Homo sapiens: one gene and its partner. The protein of the gene in region 1 interacts with the protein of each later gene in a biochemical or structural test. Each region holds a gene or a part of one and is shown in the gene's direction. Other genes may lie near its edges.

Region 1 (7,095 bases):
CTGTGCTGTGTGGAGTGGTGCTGGGGACAGTGCAAGGCAAAAGGCAGTCCAGAGGAAGCTTGTGTGTCATGGGTGGGGGAAGGCATGAAGGGCCAGAGCCTGCACAGAGGACCTGAGAAGCCAAAACCCTACCAGAGTTGAGCTTCAGCACCTCCTGCTGCAGATTCCTGCCTTGTTTGTTGCCTATGTGAATTTGACCCAAAAAGCCTCGGGGTTCCTCGTGGACCCCACAGCGTTGCAATCCTGACCCTATTAGAGAAGCCCACAGGGTCTGGAAGGAAGGGCAGGGGGAGCCCCAGTCCCCGGGCCTGGGCCCTCATAGTGCACCTGTCCCTCAGCTCGGTGCATCAGCAAAGCGTGGGTGTGTGATGGCGACAATGACTGTGAGGATAACTCGGACGAGGAGAACTGCGAGTCCCTGGCCTGCAGGCCACCCTCGCACCCTTGTGCCAACAACACCTCAGTCTGCCTGCCCCCTGACAAGCTGTGTGATGGCAACGACGACTGTGGCGACGGCTCAGATGAGGGCGAGCTCTGCGGTGAGGCCTGGTCCCAGGAGAAGGGTAGGGAGGGTGGCTGGGTAGGAGTCTGGGCCAAGGACAGTCTTTGGGGGACCTGAGTCTAGGAGAGAGCAGCTCTGGCAGCCGGGCAGGCGAGCAGCACCCAGAGTGGTCACCAGCAGCCTGTGTGGACCTGGCGCTCCCCATGGCGCTGTGCTGAGTGAGCCACGCCATTAGAGCAGTTTATCCACAAGGCATCCCTGGGGGCCAGGTGCTCTGTTTTCTCCGTTTGACAGATGGGAGCACTGAGGCATGGAGGGGTTCCATAGTGGTCCCCCAGACTTGGGCCAAGGTAGTACAGCTCCTAAACTGCTGTGGAGACTCAGACCCCTTGCCCACATGCATACCACAGAGAGATGCGGAGTGCTCTTGTGGAGACAAAGGCACCAGGGTTGACTGCTGATGGTCAGGGCAGGCTTCCTGGAGGATGTGGGGATTGCATGGGGTTCCCAAGGACAGGCAGTACTTGCAGAGTGAGTGAGAAGGCATGGGGGCAGGCGCGGTGGCTCACACCTGTCATTCCAGCACTTTGGGAGGCTGAGGCGGGCAGATCACTTGAGCTCAGGAATTTGAGATCAGCCTGGCCAACATGGTGAAACCCTGTCTCTGCTAAAAATACAAAAATTAGCCGGACATGTCTGCAGTCCCAGCTACTTGGGAGGCAGAGGCAGGAGACTCGCTTGAACCTGGGAGGCGGAGGTTGCAGTGAGCCAACATCCTGCCACTGCACTCCAGCCTGGGCGACAGAGCAAGACCCCATCCCAAACAAACAAACAGGCAAGGGGAGGAGGGTGCCCATTCAAGACCAAAAGAGATGAGGTTGGGGGAGTCCAGGAGTCAGGGAGGACCATGTGGTGTGACTTGGGGATGAGGAGCAGAGCAGCCTTATCTGGTCCTCTTAGCCAGGCAGAGCCCCCAGTTCCTTGGAAGGGAGGAGTGGAAGATAAGGCCACAGGGACTGGCTGGGAGAACTGCCGACAGGCTATCAGTCAGGCTGGCAGTTTCCAGGGTGTGCCAGAGGACCAAGGGTGGTATAGGCCCTGCTGCACCCCACCCCAAACCCCTCCAAATCAGGAGAGATCAGCACAAGGGGACTGGACCTAAGGACCTCCCAGGGTCCCTCCCAGGGAGGCAAAAAGCTGGGGCCCCCGCCCTGGGCCCAAGAAGGCAGGAACATATCGAGACCAGACAGAGATATTGAGGGGTGCTCCCTGTGGGAAGGGGAGGTATGGTGCCAGCTGGTGGGTGCAAGGGTCCCAACTCTGGTCCTGAGGGAGCCCAGGAAGTCCTGGGCTGAAGCTCAGCCTGAAGCTCAGCAGGAATGGAGACGAATGGGGCCGTGGGCAGGGCACAAGGACTTGGTCCAGGCTGCCCAGGACTTGGGGCCCAGCAGGGCCGTGGTCTTGCCTCCTCTCAGCTTCTGACCCTGGGTCTGTTCCATGCCTGCCCCTCCCCTAGACCAGTGCTCTCTGAATAACGGTGGCTGCAGCCACAACTGCTCAGTGGCACCTGGCGAAGGCATTGTGTGTTCCTGCCCTCTGGGCATGGAGCTGGGGCCCGACAACCACACCTGCCAGATCCAGAGCTACTGTGCCAAGCATCTCAAATGCAGCCAAAAGTGCGACCAGAACAAGTTCAGCGTGAAGTGCTCCTGCTACGAGGGCTGGGTCCTGGAACCTGACGGCGAGAGCTGCCGCAGCCTGGGTGAGACAACAGTGAGGTGTGGTGGGGCAGGCCGAGGCAGGCCTCTGAGCTGCAGTGGGTTGGGCTTGGTGGCCAGGTGCCAAAGGCTGAGTTTTCCACCCTAGCCCCCAGTGCCCGGACCAGCAGAGACCTGCCTGCGCCAGGACGGGTGGCACACAGGCAGCTAGCCCCTTGCTGACCCCATCACATCCCTCCCATCCCAGACCCCTTCAAGCCGTTCATCATTTTCTCCAACCGCCATGAAATCCGGCGCATCGATCTTCACAAAGGAGACTACAGCGTCCTGGTGCCCGGCCTGCGCAACACCATCGCCCTGGACTTCCACCTCAGCCAGAGCGCCCTCTACTGGACCGACGTGGTGGAGGACAAGATCTACCGCGGGAAGCTGCTGGACAACGGAGGTGACCACCGATTGCTGCCAGGCAGGATGCACACAGGCGGAGCGCTCAGGCGCTAGGGGCCACAGGTCCCATCCAAGTGGCCCCAAAGCAGAGGCTTGGCTCCCCCATCCCCCACACTTCTGTTCATTGGGTTAGATTTTGCTGTGGGTCTCCATGCCTGACGCCCCGTAATTATCGTCAGCAGAACTGCCAGCCTGATAATTAACAAAATGATCAGCCTTACCTTTGAATGGCCTGGAGCTCTGCTCCCCAGATCTAGAATTGCAGGCTTGAAAGAAAAAAGCCACTTAGGAGTGGCGTACCTGAACGCTGCTTTCTGTCCCAGGCAGCGTGGTGCACCCCAGACTTCCTTCAGTCACACACAATAGTGAGTGCCCACTGTACACACTGGGCAGTGGGCATGCAGCAGTGATCAAAACAGGCTGTTTTCAGTTGTGTGGTCAAGGAAGGTCCCCTGAGAAGGTGACATCTGAGCAAAGGCTTCTAAGAGGCACATTTTACTAGAGAAGTTTGTATTGTTTGTAATAATACAAACTTGAATTTGAAACCATTACAAATGTCCATCAACGAGGGGGGAGGCTAAGTAAACTGTGATGATATCCACACTGTGCAACAGTCTCTAAAACAATGAGGCACACACATAATGTATTAGCATGGAAAAATCTTTATGGCAGTCACTTGAGCTCAAGCAGTTGAGGCTGCCGTGAGCCATGATCATGCCACTGCATCCAGCCTTGGTGACAGAAGACCCTGTCTCAAAAAAAAAAAAAAAGTTGGGGAGACAATAGGAGTCCTACTCTTGAATATGGGCACATCAGAAACTTTGGCAGAAGTGCCAGGGTTGAGGGTGGGTCATCGAGGGCTCCCAGGATTTCACACATTCATGCACAGCTCCCCAGGAGACGCTAACCTTTCACTGCCCTCTCTTCTCCAGCCCTGACTAGTTTCGAGGTGGTGATTCAGTATGGCCTGGCCACACCCGAGGGCCTGGCTGTAGACTGGATTGCAGGCAACATCTACTGGGTGGAGAGTAACCTGGATCAGATCGAGGTGGCCAAGCTGGATGGGACCCTCCGGACCACCCTGCTGGCCGGTGACATTGAGCACCCAAGGGCAATCGCACTGGATCCCCGGGATGGGTGAGGACCTTGCCCAGCCTTCTCCTGGCCCCATGGCCCCCCTGAAGTCCCATTCAGCCTGGCCAGGGACACCTTACTCCTCAGTGCCATCTGCCTCCTCCCACCCTCTACCTACGATCCCACCACAGTCGCTCCCTGAGGGCCCTGACTTTAGCCCTCCTGACCCCTCCCCACTCCCCAGGATCCTGTTTTGGACAGACTGGGATGCCAGCCTGCCCCGCATTGAGGCAGCCTCCATGAGTGGGGCTGGGCGCCGCACCGTGCACCGGGAGACCGGCTCTGGGGGCTGGCCCAACGGGCTCACCGTGGACTACCTGGAGAAGCGCATCCTTTGGATTGACGCCAGGTCAGCACCCTCTGTGCCCTGAGAAGGCCCAAGTCTGTGGCACCAGGACGGGGTGGGGAGGAACCTGTGGTGATGAGGGTGATGAGAAGGACCAAGGGATCTAGAACTAGGAACGGTGGCAAAGGACTGGGCACAGGAGGAGGAGGACGGAGGGGCGTGGGGAGGCCAGGGCCGAGGGGAGGGGGCAGGTAGAGGAGGCGGAAGCAGGGCCATCAGCTGTGGTTATTCACACTGTACCATCCTCTCCACTCACCTGTCCTCTCCACTCTGTTCCCTCTGCTGGGGCTGTGTCTGCCCAGAGGGAGGGGAAACTTCTTTCTAATTGGTCTGCCCAGGGAGGGTGCCTTTTTCTTTTCTTTTTTTTTTTTTTTTTTTGAGACAGAGTCTCGCTCCGTCGCCCAGGCTGGAGTGCAGTGGCGCGATCTCGGCTCACTGCAGGCTCCGCCCCCCGGGGTTCACGCTGAGGGTGCCTTTTTCTGACTTTCATCAAAGCCCTGAGTGCTGACAGCAGCCCTGGGGAGAAGTGACCGAAAGATTCCCTTGGGGCTTGGGAATCGGGGCCTGAGAGGTGAAACCTGGACCTGTTGGGTTCTCACACCTTGGTCCTTCTGTCTGTCTGCTCTGGCCAGCAAGGCTTAGGGGAGGGAATGGTCCCATGCTCTTCGCTGGGAGGGCTGTGGCCAGGGCCCAGAGGGTGGGCACCTGGGCAGAGCTCTGAGGGCTGAGATCCCAGCTGGCATCCTCATTCTGCTCCATCATGCTCTTAGGTCAGATGCCATTTACTCAGCCCGTTACGACGGCTCTGGCCACATGGAGGTGCTTCGGGGACACGAGTTCCTGTCGCACCCGTTTGCAGTGACGCTGTACGGGGGGGAGGTCTACTGGACTGACTGGCGAACAAACACACTGGCTAAGGCCAACAAGTGGACCGGCCACAATGTCACCGTGGTACAGAGGACCAACACCCAGCCCTTTGACCTGCAGGTGTACCACCCCTCCCGCCAGCCCATGGGTAAGGGGCTCGGGGCCTCGAGCAGCCGGAAGGGAGCCAGCAGCCTCTTTAGAAGCTGTAGAAGCTCTTAGGAGAGGAGAGGGCAGTGAGAACAGGAGCAAGTCTGTGCTGGGATGGCAGGGGTAGGCCGGCTGTTGACAGAGGCACTGTCTAGCAGCAGAGAAGGGTCTAGTAGTAGCGGCTGCTGGAACAGGGGGAGGAGAGTGGGCGAGGAAGGGGTGGTCCATGTAGGGAGCAGCAAGTCACAGGATGCTCTGGCTTCTTCTCTTCTCCACCCTGCCCCCAGCTCCCAATCCCTGTGAGGCCAATGGGGGCCAGGGCCCCTGCTCCCACCTGTGTCTCATCAACTACAACCGGACCGTGTCCTGCGCCTGCCCCCACCTCATGAAGCTCCACAAGGACAACACCACCTGCTATGGTAGGAGCCCCTCCCTCCAGAGCCAGTGAGCAACTGAGGCTGGAGGGAAGGCCGCAGGCCCCAGGATCCCGGTTGTCAGCTAAGGCAGAGTCCCAGTCGGGAGGGTCCCGATAGGAGAGGCTCCAGAGACAGCCACTGTGAGAAGGGGCTGCAGGTCTGCCAGGGGGGCTGCACCCAGCGGGGTATGTCCACGGAGCCAAGGGCCAGTAGCAAACAGACGGATCCAGAAGAAGGCAGGGCCTGAAACCGGATTGGTGGGAAGCACAGAGGCAGGGACTGCCTTCAGTGACCAGCCCATGCCCCACAGAGTTTAAGAAGTTCCTGCTGTACGCACGTCAGATGGAGATCCGAGGTGTGGACCTGGATGCTCCCTACTACAACTACATCATCTCCTTCACGGTGCCCGACATCGACAACGTCACAGTGCTAGACTACGATGCCCGCGAGCAGCGTGTGTACTGGTCTGACGTGCGGACACAGGCCATCAAGCGGGCCTTCATCAACGGCACAGGCGTGGAGACAGTCGTCTCTGCAGGTTCTTCCTGGCCCTGGATGCCCACCAGTGGACATGGGCACCTCCACCCGCCCCTTGCTCCCAACCCTGGTCTACTTGGTCCGAGTGGTCCTTCTCCCAGTCCTGTTCCCCCTCAGTGCTCCAGCCTGGTTTCCTGATCCCTTTTCTCCAGAAGGCACACTGGCTCCCCTCCTGACCCACTGCCCTGCAGACACCCAACAACTGACTCCCTACTTGTGCCCCCAGACTTGCCAAATGCCCACGGGCTGGCTGTGGACTGGGTCTCCCGAAACCTGTTCTGGACAAGCTATGACACCAATAAGAAGCAGATCAATGTGGCCCGGCTGGATGGCTCCTTCAAGAACGCAGTGGTGCAGGGCCTGGAGCAGCCCCATGGCCTTGTCGTCCACCCTCTGCGTGGGTCAGTCTAGGGCCCAGGGCCGGGGAGCATGGGGTGTGGGGCTGGGAAGAAGAGGACCCTGACCTTTCCCTCTTGGCACCCTCCCCCCAGGAAGCTCTACTGGACCGATGGTGACAACATCAGCATGGCCAACATGGATGGCAGCAATCGCACCCTGCTCTTCAGTGGCCAGAAGGGCCCCGTGGGTACGAGCTTCCCTGCCCACCCCCACAGCCCCTCCCTAATTCCTTGACCAGCAGGTGCTTGCAGGGTCCTTCAGTTGCCCCTCAGCCTCCCCAGAGCCCTAGCTTAGTGCCTGTTCTCACCATCTGCTCCCTTCCCTGGATCCCCAGCCCTGGGCCAGACTCCCCGGCAGTGACTCCCCCTTTTCCAGGCCTGGCTATTGACTTCCCTGAAAGCAAACTCTACTGGATCAGCTCCGGGAACCATACCATCAACCGCTGCAACCTGGATGGGAGTGGGCTGGAGGTCATCGATGCCATGCGGAGCCAGCTGGGCAAGGCCACCGCCCTGGCCATCATGGGTGAGGGCTGCTGGGCGAAGCAGAGATGACGCAGAGCAGGCCAGGCCAGACCTACTG
Region 2 (7,712 bases), on another chromosome or scaffold:
AGCCTCAGACCTTTACCCAAGAAGATCCTGAATGGGGAGATGAGACACACCCACTGATGGAGTGAATGTTTCTGGACTTTACGGAGGTCCGGAGAAAATCACTCAGAATACCTCTGTATCATCTATGGGCTGATTTCACTGGATATGATTTTATTAGCCACCATTTGATCATGGGCCTGTAATTGATTAAATAAATGTATATACCCATTAAATAATTACAGCTTGGAAAGTGATTCTTTTTTACTAAGAATCATTTGTGATCTTTTTACTAAGATCGTTTGTGTAATGATCGAATTAGGGTAATTAGCAAATCCATCCTTTTGTTTGTTTGTTTGTTTGTTTTTGGATGGAGTCTCACTCTGTTGCCAGGCTGGAGTGCAGTGGTGCGATCTCAGCTCACTGTAACCTCCAGCTCCCGGGTTCAAGCAATTCTCCTGCCTCAGCCTCCCGAGTAGCTGGGACTGCAGGCGCGTGCCACCATGCCCAGCTAATTTTTGTATTTTTAGTAGAGACAGGGTTTCACCATGTTGGCCAGGATGGTCTCTTGACCTAGTGATCTCCCCACCTCGGCCTCCTGAAGTGTTGGGATTATAGGCGTGAGCCACTGCACCCAGCCTTTCACTAAGTTAAAAAAAATTAAAACTGACACGAGAATGGTACATATTTGTGGGGTACAATGTGATGTTTTGATACGTGCACACATTGTGTAAGGATCAAATTAGGGTAATTACCAAATCCATCTCAAACATTTCTTTGTGGTGAGAACATTGTAAGTTCTCTCTTCTACCTATGTTGAAATATACATTATTCAAAAAATAAGAGGTGCTGGTGAGGTTGTGGATAAAAGGGAAGGCTTATATACACTGTTGGTGGGAGTGTAAATTAGTTCAACCATTTTGGAAAGCAGTGTGATGATTCCTGAAAGAGCTAAAAACAGAATTAACATTTCACCCAGCAATCTCATTACTGGGTATATATAGGAATATAAATTGCTCTGCCATAACGACACATGCACTCATATGTTCATTGCAGCACTATTCTCAATAGCAGAGGCATGGAATCAACCTAAATGCCCATCAGTGGCAGACTGGATAAGGAAAATATGGTATATATACACCATGGAATACTACGGTATACACCATGGAATACTATGCAGCCATAAAAAAGAACGAGATCATGTCTTTTGCAGGAACATGGATGGAGCTGGAGGCTATTATTCTAAGTGAAGTAACACAGGAACAGAAAACAAAATTCTGCATGTTTTCACTTATAAGTGGGAGCTGAATGATGAGAACACATGGACACATAGAGGGGAGCAATAGATACTGGGACCTAAAAAAAAAGTTAAACTCTACTATGCGATAGAATACCAGAACTTATCCCTCCCATCTGACTTTAACTGTGTACTGGTTGACCAATCTCTCACCATCCTCCCTCCCTGCTCCCCTTGGAGAGTGATTCTCTTATTTTTTTCATTTTTATTTTTGAGAGACAGGGTCTCACTTTATTGCCCAGGCTGGAGTGCAGTGGTGCGATCGTAGCTCACTGCAGCCTTGACCTCCTGGGCTCAAGCGATACTCCATCTCAGCTTCCTGAGTAGCTGAGATTGCGGGCATGCACTACCATGCTTGGCTAATTTTTTAATTTTTGTAGAAACTGGGTCTTGCTATGTTGCCCTGGCTGGTCTTGAACTCCTGGACTCAAGTGATCCTCCCACCTCAGCCTCCCAAAGTGCTAGGATTACAGGTGTGAGTCACCACGCCCATCTGAGAGTGATTCTTAATCACAGGCCACAGGATACTGCTCTTGCCCATTCCTAGTTTGTTCCAGCTGTATCAGACTGCTGGCTGAGCTGTCCTGCTTGTGGTGCTGAGCCAGACAAAGGCTGGTTGGGGATGTGTAATAAGGACACTGCGTAGCGAAGCAGCCCCAGAGACATTCAGGCAGCCAGAGATGGTGCACAAAGCATAGATAAACAGATAAATGCAAGGGTCTTTACTCATCCCTCCCTGGCCCTCCCCATGGCTCTGACTCTCCAAGAAAATAAATCAAGCTAATGCCCCAAACCCAGCTGTGTAAGTCCATAATGGGAGACAGAGGATCAAACAGCAGCACCTGCCAAGAAGATGATGCATTCTCTATGAATCAGCCCAGTGACTCAGCATCTGATAAAGCTTATTTGGAGTGTTTAGGGCAAGGGAAGGGGTGGTCCTGTTCTGCTTTGTGTGCTCAGGCCCTCCGGCATTGGCTGGTCCAAGGCTCCCCACTGGCATTGGCTAGTCCAGGGCTGGGCCAAGGGTTTCAAGAGAGATGAGGTCCAGAATGTCAAAGGGCTGGGGAAAAGTCTGCAAACCACGGCAAGGCAAGGAGCTGCAAGCCTGGAGGTCACTGGGAAAAGCAGACTACGTTGCCTTCAAATATCAGAAGGGGCACTATGGGAGAGATAGGCTGGATTTTCTCTGTGTGGCTCCAGAGGGCAGAACTGGGCTCCGGATTGGCCCATACACGAGCCAGACTGTGACTCAACCAAAGAAGGCCCTAACTTTATCAACAGCTTTACTAGACAAATGGTTGCATGGCAGGTAGTGAGCTCCCTGTTATTGGTGGCATTCAAACATGGGCAGGATGACCACCGGGTGCAGATGCTGGGGATGGGGTAGGAATCAAGCAGTGTGTGAGTCCTGAACCAATCAATGTCTATGATCTGCTTAGAATATGAAACATCTGGTGATGCATTTATGGCGCTTTCAAAATTTACACTTTTCTTTCCTCAAAGTTTGACCTTCTGAACCTTGTTTGCTTAGTAGTGGGAATAATCAAGTAATTATTCCCAAGGGATCACAGTCATGACTGTGAATCTGTGAATCATGCTATTTTCTCCCAAGTCCTTTCTTCCTCTCTTCCCTTCCCCTAATTCAGCTGGCTAAGGCGGATCTCACTGACTGACCTCCAAAGTCTAATTTTTAAAAATATAACTAGATTTATGCCTTCTGTTCCGGATGCTGAGGGAGCTACAGAACAGAAAAGTTACAAGGAGCGAGCTCAAAAACAATTCTTCTAACCTCAGGTATTGATAAGGAGCAGGCACTGATAAGGAGCAGGCACTGTCCACAGAAAATGTAGCTGTTACTGATAATTAGACATTTTTTTTTTAAGAAAAATAAAGTGTAGCCTCTTCTGGGACATTTTTTTCTTCTTCTGGGTTAATGGCCTTCTAATACTTGGCTTGGCTCTAGGTTAGGTTGCAGGGAGCCGTGGAGATGATCCATTCCCGATTCCTCATCGTCCAGATGGAAGAAACTGAGGCCCAAGGGCAAAGTGATTAGTCCGAGGTCACCCAGTGTCTAGGGGCACACCTAGGACTGTAATCAGACTTTCATGGACCTGGTCTGGGTTCTCCCACTTAGTCATGGGCCTTGAAGATTCCCCGAGGCTGCCTCCTGAAAAGGACTGGGGTCCTAGTGGCCCCTGGACGTTGGGCAAGCAAGGGACTGGGCCTCCATGTTGTGCCTCCATAGTCCTGATCCTGAACTGGAAAACTCAGCCCCTGACCACGCAGCTCTCCTTTAAGCCCCTTTGTTTCACATGGTTTTCAAAGTCTGCCACCCACAGTGGGGCTGCCTGTACCCGCCCTGTCCACCCATTGCCCCAGCTGTCAGCCCCTTGACTTCTCTCCTGGGGCTTAAACATCCCTGGCTCCAAAATGGGCAGCTCACTTTCTTCCCCAAGAAGTAGCTGCACCTCCAGGGTTCCTAGATTTGCCCCTCCTTGCCAGGGGGAGGGGTGGCTGCGACAGGAGATTCTCCCTGCTCTCAGCAGAAGGAACTCCAGCAGTTGGAGACCAGCAAACCCCTCTGGACACAGATCTGATTTCCTAACTGGGAAGGCTCAGGGCAAAATAAAAATTCAGGTCCACTGGTTCAAAAACTATGAAGAATTTCAAGACCGTCACAGTAGCCCATTAAACCAAACGTGGATCTGCAAGGGTCCCACAGCCATGAAGCCCACCCTGCTTGGTTGGGTTCCAAAAAGATGGGGACAGTGATTGCTTAAGCTCTGTGGATCAAGGACCCCGGAGAGGCCTTCTGGCTCTCCACATATCTGCTCTGATCACTCCTAAACACAATTCTGTTTCCTCCAGGCCTGGCGGGTCAGTCCAGGGACCCCCATCAGTGTGATGTTTCCAGGAGTAGGCGTTTCAATACTTCCTGTGCTCTCTTCTCCAGCACAAGGCCCCTCTCCATCCCACCCTCATTATGTCTGACTCTTTACTATTTAAATGGGTCAAGAGAAGTGGCGCTTGTGTAATGTGAAGGTTAAGGTCAGTAGGGCCAGGGAACTGTGAGATTGTGTCTTGGACTGGGACAGACAGCCGGGCTAACCGCGTGAGAGGGGCTCCCAGATGGGCACGCGAGTTCAGGCTCTTCCCTACTGGAAGCGCCGAGCGGCCGCACCTCAGGGTCTCTCCTGGAGCCAGCACAGCTATTCGTGGTGATGATGCGCCCCCCGGCGCCCCCAGCCCGGTGCTGCACCGGCCCCCACCTCCCGGCTTCCAGAAAGCTCCCCTTGCTTTCCGCGGCATTCTTTGGGCGTGAGTCATGCAGGTTTGCAGCCAGCCCCAAAGGGGGTGTGTGCGCGAGCAGAGCGCTATAAATACGGCGCCTCCCAGTGCCCACAACGCGGCGTCGCCAGGAGGAGCGCGCGGGCACAGGGTGCCGCTGACCGGTGAGATGTCCCCGTCTTCCCTACCCTTGAGCAGAGCCACACCAGGACGGATGGGCGGGCAGGGGATGGCAGCCAGGCAGAGAGGGATGACACAGCTCGCAGTCACAACCCCTGCGCTTTCGACGGAGCCCAGGAAGCCAGGGAGGGGAGGTGGCCGGAGCCCCATCACCAGGCAGCTGAGCCAGGGGCCCCGGCGCAACCGCCGCCTGAGAGCACGAGCTCCAACCACAATTCTGTGGTGGGGGGGTAAATAGAACAGATATAATGATCATCCTTTCGCAAAGATGGGGAAACTGAGACCTGGAGACCTGCCGCGTTGCGGGAGACCCAGGCTAGCAGGTGACAGAGCTGGCCTGCACCGAGCTCCTTCCTGCAGCATATCCTCTGCGAAGATGCGGATCTCTCAGTTGTGGCTTTCGGCTTGCATGCATGAGTCATCTAGTTTTCTTCTAAATTCTCTAGCTCTCTGGACACTGTTGCCTGTAAGTATGAGGCTGCGGATTTCAGTATATGCTGCAACCACCGAAATCCGACTTTTTCTGCCTCCTAATGCATCTGAGGTGCATCAGAGAAAAGTCACACAAGATCCACCAGGCCTCAGACCTCTGATTCCACAGTCTCATTTTACAGATGATAATCTGAGGCCTGGAGAGGTTTAGGACTGGTGCCAACACTAAACAGCAAATAAGTATCAGAATTGGGATTCGAGCCAAAGCCTCTTGACCTTCCAGAATTTCTGGACCTAGTTAAAAAAAATATGATTTTTATTATTATTTTTTAAACGGAGAGGTTAGGAATTTAAAGGAAAGTACAGATACTATATAAAAAAAGATGCCCATGAAAATGTTAAGTTATAATAATAGTGGAGCATTGGGCACAACTGAAATGGCCAATCTTGTGAGAATGGTAAAATAAACTTAGGTCCGTGAGTAAGTGGAGTATTACATAGCCATAAAAGTATGCCCTTAAAGAATATTTGAAGATGGTGAATGTGAAGAATCTTGTATAAACTGCATGGAAGACAGAAGGAAATATACCACAGTGCTAACCTTTGCCTCTGGGTGATATGAATTACCGGTGATTATTTTTCTTATTTTCCTTTTGGTTTAGTTTTCTCCATTTGAAGAAGCAGATAGGAGCCGGGGCTTTGGGATTGAAACCCTCACCATCTGTGTGCCCTCTTCACTGTCTTCCCATCCTCCCCACGGCTCCCTGTTCACAGTCATTGATTTTCTTTCTTTCTTTTCTCTCTTTTTTTTTTTTTTTCCTGAGACCAAGTCTCACTCTGTTGCCCAGGCTGGAGTAGAGTAGCGCCATCTCGGCTCACTGCAACCTCCGCCATCCGGGTTCAAGCAGTTCTCATGCCTCAGCCTCTGAGTAGCTGGGACTACAGGCGCATGCTGCTACATCCGGCTAATTTTTGTATTTTTAGTAGAGACATGGTTTCACCACCTTGGCCAGGCTGGTCTCGAACTCCTGATCTCAAGTAATCCGCCTGTCTTGGCCTCCCAAAGTGCTGGGGTGACAGGTGTGAATCAATGCGCCCTGCCAGGTCATTGATTTTCTTAAGCCTCCAGCCCTGCCCTGCTTGGAAACGTTTTGGGAAGCTGCTCAGTTCAAAGTTCCCAGGAGGGTGTGCCTGGAGGGGAGTTGCTCCCAAAGTCTGCCTGCTCCCCCCGCCCCCCCTGCCCCCCACCCCCCGCCATCTTCTCCTCCTCCTCTTCCCCTGAGCAGCCCCTTTGTCCACAGAACCGGCCTTTTCTGGTAGAAGGAGCAAGGCCAAGTGGTTTAAGCCTTCTTAGGGAGAATGAGGCTGTGTGGTAGTGCTGGGGACTCGAGGGCCTTGGCCTTGGCATGGCTCTTCCACCCAGGGCAGCTGGCAGCCAGGCTCCCAGGAGGCAGAGGAGATGAGGGGGGAGGTGAGTCCGAGCAAAGGAAAGGAGGTCGGCTGTGCAGTCACGGTTCTAGAACATTCCTTGGATCAGCAGCATCCATATCACCTGCAGACTGGCTGGAAAAGCAGTCTCAGAACCAACATTATAACCAGCCCTGCAGTGATTCATAAGTACTTTAAAAAGTGGTCAATCATTTCAGCAAAGCAGAGCCACACAGTCCGGGGGACCACAGGTGGCCTCTGTGTGCTTGTCTCGGTTTTCCTGCCCCTCTCCAGACATGTTGATTAGACACTGCCAATGCCCAGCCTCAGACCTCAGTCTAATTTGGAAGTAGTCAGAATTTACTATGATTACATAAGACCCTCGTGTTTACAGAACACATTCCCCTCTCTGAGGTCTGGATTAGATCCATTTTACAGATGAAGAAACTGAGGCTCAGATATTTAAGTGACTTGGAATCAAGGAAAGAATACTGGACTAGGGGTCGGGAGGGCTGGGCTCTCATCCCAGGGTTACCATGAGCATGCTGTGGACTCTAGGGAGTCCCATGCCCTCTCTGGGCTTCAGCCTCACCGCTAGGGTAGAGAGGTTGGGTGAGAGAACGACCTCCTTCCCAGGTCTGAGCTGGATGGTTCACCAGGGACCCCAGGCTCCCTGGAGCAGACTCTGTGCCCGCTGCTGAGTCTGGAATTCCTTTCCTGTATCTTGCCTTTGGCTGCCCCATTCTTCATGGCCCAGCACCCTGTCTTCTGGTCAGAACCTAGTTCTGAATGGGTTTTTCCAGAAGTTGTTGCTTTCAGGGGCCCCTGGCAGAGAGGTGTTTCTGGCTGGCTTTGTCTCTCTGGCATGACAAAGGCTCTGTTCCTGCTGGAGGCATTTCAGGGCTCAGTGGGCAGCTGGGGCAGAGCCCGTGAGACCACAGCCTTCCTGGTGAGCCCGGTCTCCGCCCCCTACCCCATCTCTGGGGAAGGCGCTGACCCCATCTCTTCTCCCACGCTGCTCCCTGGCTCTTTGCGCCTGATTACTTCTCATGAGAGGCACTCCTTGTTAATGTGCTACTGAGTGTCCAGATGGGCCTGCTGGGCTGAGCGG

What was found. Proteins that work in one complex are often made in the same cells at the same time.
Region 2: the proteins of LRP1 (region 1) and CLU form a complex in vitro, tested with the Homo sapiens proteins (one study listed by BioGRID).

The regions. Positions count from the first base shown.
Region 1 is NC_000012.12:57,173,442-57,180,536, forward strand, and holds part of LRP1 (prolow-density lipoprotein receptor-related protein 1 preproprotein), read left to right. Parts: intron 1-338; coding exon 339-539; intron 540-2,018; coding exon 2,019-2,264; intron 2,265-2,467; coding exon 2,468-2,665; intron 2,666-3,599; coding exon 3,600-3,804; intron 3,805-3,985; coding exon 3,986-4,150; intron 4,151-4,917; coding exon 4,918-5,162; intron 5,163-5,448; coding exon 5,449-5,580; intron 5,581-5,887; coding exon 5,888-6,115; intron 6,116-6,340; coding exon 6,341-6,515; intron 6,516-6,605; coding exon 6,606-6,700; intron 6,701-6,888; coding exon 6,889-7,038; intron 7,039-7,095. UniProt on the Homo sapiens protein: Endocytic receptor involved in endocytosis and in phagocytosis of apoptotic cells. Required for early embryonic development. Involved in cellular lipid homeostasis.
Region 2 is NC_000008.11:27,611,668-27,619,379, reverse strand, and holds the start of CLU (clusterin isoform 1 preproprotein), read left to right. Parts: upstream 1-4,679; 5' UTR 4,680-4,725; intron 4,726-7,628; exon of another isoform or gene 7,629-7,712.